Regions from separate parts of the Homo sapiens genome. Here region 1 is linked to region 2. The links come from fine-mapping of genetic effects on plasma protein levels. Region 2 holds a variant in brackets. A gene starts in the other region. All regions are shown on their reverse strands.

Region 1 (2,862 bases), not on the chromosome of region 2:
TGGGCCCTGAAATAGTGCGGGAAACCAGAGCTCCTCTAAAGACAGAGGCAGGATAAAATTAGAAGACGTGGAAATCCCTAACGGAGGGAAGCTGGGCGGCAAGAGGGATCACGGTTATAACGGGCCAGTGGACTCCTGCAGCGCTTAGTCGGATCGGGTGTAAGGGGCCCTAGACGTCTATTTCAAGACTGTGATGGTTACCTCCACAACTCTCTTTAGGGCTCCTTAGGACTGAGGAATACTTTTTTAAAGCCAATTTTCCCGCCTTGTATGGTGTGCCTGAGCTCTGTGACCGCGCATGCAGAAATAGGGGTGTGTGTGTGTGTGTGTGTGTGTGTGTGTGTGTGCGCGCGCGCGCGCGCGCTTCCCATGAAAGCTTCCCCTAGAAGGTTGCCTGGCTTGGCTTGCCGTTACGCGCGCTCCCGGAACAAAGCCGCAGTGGGAGGTCCCGGCCCCGCTTGCCTCCTTACCTGCCGGCAGCCAGCTCCGGGCAGCCCAGCCCTGCACCGCGTGCAGGTCGGCTCGCGTCTGCCGCAGCTCCTCTAGCACCGCGGCCAGGGCGCGCCCCGCCTCCTCTGGGCGCTGCGCCTCCGCGCCCTCCATACGCGCCAGCCTGCGGCCCGCGTCGCGGGTCGCCTGCAGCAGCTCGTCCAGAGCACTGGTCAGCCTGGCCTCTGCGGGAGCCCCCGGCGCGCACGGCCTCGCCAGGCTTTCCGCGAGCCGGCCCAGCTCCTCCCGCAGCCTCTGCAGCTCGCCCCGCAGGACGTCGTCCGTGGCTTGCAGCAGCATGCGCTCTCTCATCTGCGAGTTCTCCAGCATGATGAAGAGCTTGTCCCATTCCGAGTGCTCCTGACCGCAGGCGCACGGCGTGGCTAGAGTACGGGATACACACACGTTAGCAGCCCGCCCAGGCCTGCCTTGGATGTGCTTTGTAAAAGCTGACCTCCCTCGGTGGTGCCAAGTTGCAGCCCGTTCCTGGCATTCCCCTTCCCTTTAAGGACACCTCCGAAAAACAGCATGTAAATGTCTCAGAAACGACAGAAATCATTCATTCAGGTATAGATTAAGTTGTACCCTATGAAATCGCCGGTTATGTAGCTCAAAACAGTCAAATATTGACGATTTGATATGATTCAACCCATTATGTACGTTACAGAAATAACTTTGAAACCTCCATCTTTCTTCAAGTGCTTCTCACTTTTGCATAACAAGCTATAAATTTTTAACTTGTCTCACTGGCCACAAAGTATATGTGTGTTATTTAGACCAAGAGGTGGATATGTAGTCAGGGTTAGCAGAGAAACAGTTAAAGTGAACTTACGGTCCTCAGTGGGATGGAGTCCATTGTCTATTTCGTTGTCCAAATTCACATACATGAGATCATAATCATCCGAGTTCTCGGCCAACACTGCAGACCAGAGAGCACAAAACAGAATCGCAAGGAGATGCATTGCTGGAGAGACGCAAAGTTCTTTCCACAGCTGGCGGGAGGAGACTCTCAAGTGAGCTGAGTTTGAGCGGAGGAGAGTGAGAGTGAGAGGCTGGAGCAGAGAGTCCTTAATAAATGCTGAGGAAAGCCTGAATGGGGATGAATGAGTAATGCTGGTGGCACTGCGGTAACGGGAGTTCCCCTGAATTTGGTGGGGGAGGGGGCTGGGTGGGAGAGCGAGGGAAATGTGGAAGTTGCACAATATTAAACCGCAAAGGTTTACGCTGCAGTCAGATTAATTGGAGGAGGGTCAGAGGGGAAAGAGGAGAGAAACTGGGCTTCTACTGTTCTCCTGAGAATTAGCTGTTGTAATTTGAATTGATAGCAATGGGGATGAAGGAGGGGTGGTAGGGGAGAAATTTCAGAGGGTACTGAAGCAAATCATCATTTCAGCATTTTCTGTGAGCTGTTATTATTTCACAACCCTTTATATATAGAAAACTTTCCATGTTTCCTTTGTACACTGTTTTACAGGTTGAAACTGAAAATGGTCTGATTCCAAGATAAACCAACATATTAAGAATAGTTATGGCTCTGAAAGTCAAGTCCAATCCGAGCTATCTTGTCTTTAATACTTGAGGAGTTGCACCTATACTTTTATAGATAATTTTTTTTTTTGAGACTGAATTTCGCTCTTGTTGCCCAGGCTGGAGTGCAATGGTGTGATCTCGGCTCACTGCAACCTCCGCATCCTGGGTTCAAGCGATTCTCCTACCTCAGCTTCCCAAGTAGCTGGAATTACAGGCACCCGCCACCACACCCAGTTAATTTTTGTATTTTTAGTAGAGACAGGGTTTCACCATGTTAGCCAGGCTGGTCTCGAACTCCTGACCTCAGGCGATCCACCCGCCTTCGCCTCCCAAATTGCTAGGATTACAGACGTGAGCCACCTCACCCGGCCTATGACAAACAACACAGTACAACTGGGTAAACCTAGAATGGGGAAAAAAAGCTGGGGGAAAAAAGGAATATACTTATTTAGTTATTTAGGTATGTTTCTTTTCATAACTTGGTATTATGTGGACATTATATTATTCTACAAGGTTTCGAGGCAAGGATCATGTTTTAAAAGTAAACTTAGAGATTTCTGCTTCTAACAATATATACAGGTCTGTGTTCACATGATATTAATAAAAACTTAAAAGGTACAGATGAGCTCCCATTAAAGTAAGGGGAAAATCCCGGAGCCAAAGATAGAGAGGAAAGCAAAAACAACAATCCCATGAGCTGATGCTAGGGCCCCTCTGGCATAGGAGTGAAGTGAGATAGGGGTTATTAGTTCTATAACCACCAAATGTTGATGACCATGTGGAAGCAAAGCTTAGGCCAAAGGTGGAGAGTTAGAAGGGAGATCCTCATGAAAGCCAGGACCC
Region 2 (2,842 bases):
TGAGCATAGGGGAGCCCTTCCTTAGGGAACACCATAATCGTTAATAATCATCAATTTCTCTTTGGACAAGAAGCCATTTTCAAGAGTAAATGCAGGGCTGGGTGCAGTGGCTCATGCCTGTAATCCCAGCACATTAGGAAGCCGAGGCAGGCGGGTCATGAGGTCAGGAGATCGAGACAGTAAATGCAAATACATGCCTGATACATGAAGCAACATGGATGAATCTCACCAACATCATATTGAGTGAAAGAAGCCAGGAACAGAGGAATACAGATTGCATGATTATGTGAAATTTAGGATCAGGCAAAACTGATGATCACAGACATTGAAAGAGTGGTTACAGTGGAGGAGGGGGGTGGGTGTTGAGGGAGAACAAGGGAACCTACATCTGGATCTGGGTGGTGATTACACGGATGATAGATATAAAAATCCATTGAATGGTGCACTTAAAATTAATGCATTTTGGCCGGGTGCGGTGGCTCATGCCTGTAATCCCAGTACTTTGGGAGGCCCACTCGGGTGGATCACGAGGTCAGGAGACCGAGACCATCCTGGCTAACATGGTGAAACCCCGTCTCTACTAAAATACAAAAAAATTAGCTGGGCGTGGTGGTGGGCACCAGTAATCCCAGCTACTCAGGAGGCTGAGGCAGGAGAATGGTGTGAACCCGGGAGGCGGAGCTTGCAGTGAGCTGAGATGGCGTCACTGCACTCCAGCCTGGGAGACAGAGCGAGACTCTGCCTCAAAAAAAATAAAAATAAATAAATAAAATAAAAATTAAAAAATTAATGCATTTTGCATACTTTACTGTATGTTATACCTCAATAAAGAAGAAAAAGAGTGAACCCAGCTTTCTCTGAAGTGTTCAGAACTAGTGGAAGGTAATAATCCAAGCCTGTGCTAATGTGCTGTCTTTCTTGCTTCCAAACTCTTTTTGTGTATGACTTCATATATTCACGGTGGACATTTCAGTTTTGCAGATCTCGTGGTGTGGGTACTCTTCTCTTCTTACCGTTCAGCTAGCAGTTGGTTGATGGTTAGATAGGCCCACAGTTTCCTGGTGAAATCGGGATCTGCATGCTTGTCTTTCGATA[G/C]AAAATCCTGCAAGTCGTCCATCTGGGCCAGGGTCTCCAAGACTAACTGCGTGTTAGCCTAGATGATGGAAGGTTCAGTTGAGAGACACTGGGTAACAGAATTATAGTTCATTGATTCACATTTTTAGTACCTGCTGCGAATGAATGGGAATAAAAAAGAAATGGAAGGCAAAGCCTACGGAGGAAGGAAATGCATTCCTGTGCTTGGGATTGGGCTTGGGTGAAAAGGTCAGGATTTATGGAATAGCTGGGAAGATGGCAGAGATATTCTCATGCCTTCTCCATCACTGATTGCTTCTGTTCTACACCCATGATTCCAGGCAGGCAGAGCTGACATTCAAGAGGGACTGTATCTAGGGGGTCAGTTAGTAGATAGAATAAATGGATAAGTGGAAGTACCGAAGTCGCCGTGATAACGCTCTCTATTTGATCCAATTTAGCAGGGTCAAATTTTCCTGCCACCACAATCTCTGAGCCTCCAAAGTAGTTATGGAAATTGTTTTGAGTGACGTCCGTGACTGATGTATGGGGATAGTTGAACTGAACATTCCGGAGCAATGGAGTGGAGACCTGGTTGTAGAATTTCTACAATTCACAGAGAGAGAGAGAGAAATTATGTTCCTACTGCTTTGTAGATCTAAAGCATTTTATTTTATTTATTTATTTATTTTGAGACGATGTCTCACTCTGTTGCCCAGGCTGGAGTGCAGTGGTGGGATCTCGTCTCACTGCAATCTCCGGCTCCTGGGTTCAAGCAATTATCCCACCTCAGCCCCACAAGTAGCTGGGATTACGGGCACCCGCCACCAAGCCCGGCTAATTTTTGTATTTTTAGTAGAGACGGGTTTTCACCATCTTGGCCAGGCTGGTCTTGAACTTCTGTCTTGTGATCTGCCTGCCTGGGCCTCCCAAAGTGCTGGGATTACAGGGATTACGCCCAGCTGATCTAAAACATTTTACTCTGAGATTCTTCAAAGAATCAGCAGATACCTCTTAATTTATTCACACAGGACGTTTGGGACAAGGGAAAATGCTCGTAATTATCAGATTAAAAACAGAGAGAAGACAAAGACTTGTTGAGAACATTACCTTTGGTTTAAGAGCCTGGCATTTTTTTCCCTTTCTGTTACGGTCAGCGTGAAAAACTCTTGGACAAACTTATGATAAAAGTCAGCAGGAGGTCGGGCATGGTGGCTTGACCTGTAATCCCAGCACTTTGGGAGGCCAAGGCAGGCGGATCACCTGAGTTCAGGAGTTTGAGACCAGCCTCGCCAACATGGTAAACCCTGTCTCTTCTAAAAATACAAAAATTAGCCGGGCCTGGTGGCACATGCCTGTAATCCTGGCTACTCAGGAGACTGAGGTGCGAGAATCGCCTGAACCCAGGAGGCGGAGGTTGCAGTGAGCCGAGATCGCAGCACTGCACTCCTGAACCACTGCACCACACCATTGCACTGCCATTGAACGTACTTGTCACCCAGCCTGGGTGACAAAGCAAGACTCTGTCTCAAAAAATAATAGTAATAATTAAATTTTTACAAAAGTCAGCTGGGTTAATAGTCCCCAAATCAGAATCTTATCTCTTACTTGTTCCCAAATTTAAATACGATGCCTGGTACTGACAAAGAGCAGGGAAAAACATGTTCTTTCCCTACATCATTTTCTCATCTATTTAATCAAAACAAACAAGTAGTTTGTGTCTTTTCAATATATGTATTTTAATTAAAAAAATTATCTGTTGAACAGA

Direction of the effects. Positions count from the first base shown, and alleles are read on the strand shown. Strength reflects both the effect of a copy and how common the allele is.
In carriers of allele G in region 2, the plasma level of the protein whose gene starts at base 1,535 in region 1 tends to be higher than with C alone (strong association).

What was found. A credible set is the group of variants that fine-mapping cannot tell apart. PIP is the chance, under the fine-mapping model, that this variant and not a neighbour inherited with it causes the effect. The UK Biobank Pharma Proteomics Project read protein levels with antibody pairs (Olink). The fine-mapping took linkage between variants from a reference panel, not from the people measured, so its PIPs are less certain.
Region 1: PTX3 starts here. The variant in region 2 is the best candidate, but not a certain one, in a credible set for the plasma level of the PTX3 protein (UK Biobank, PIP 0.52).

What each region holds. Positions count from the first base shown.
Region 1 is chr3:157,435,523-157,438,384 of GRCh38, reverse strand. It overlaps PTX3 (pentraxin 3), which reads right to left and starts at 1,535. Exons shown (of 3, transcript NM_002852.4): 1 at 1,322-1,535; 2 at 471-872. The coding sequence starts at 1,451. All of the region lies in intron 4 of VEPH1 (ventricular zone expressed PH domain containing 1), which reads left to right.
Region 2 is chr10:7,730,649-7,733,490 of GRCh38, reverse strand. ITIH2 (inter-alpha-trypsin inhibitor heavy chain 2) reads right to left here. Exons shown (of 21, transcript NM_002216.3): 13 at 1,495-1,680; 14 at 1,014-1,153. Among named protein-coding and RNA genes, the nearest start is that of ITIH2, 29 kb to the right of the region's middle. The variant G/C (reference allele first, on the strand shown) is at 1,096.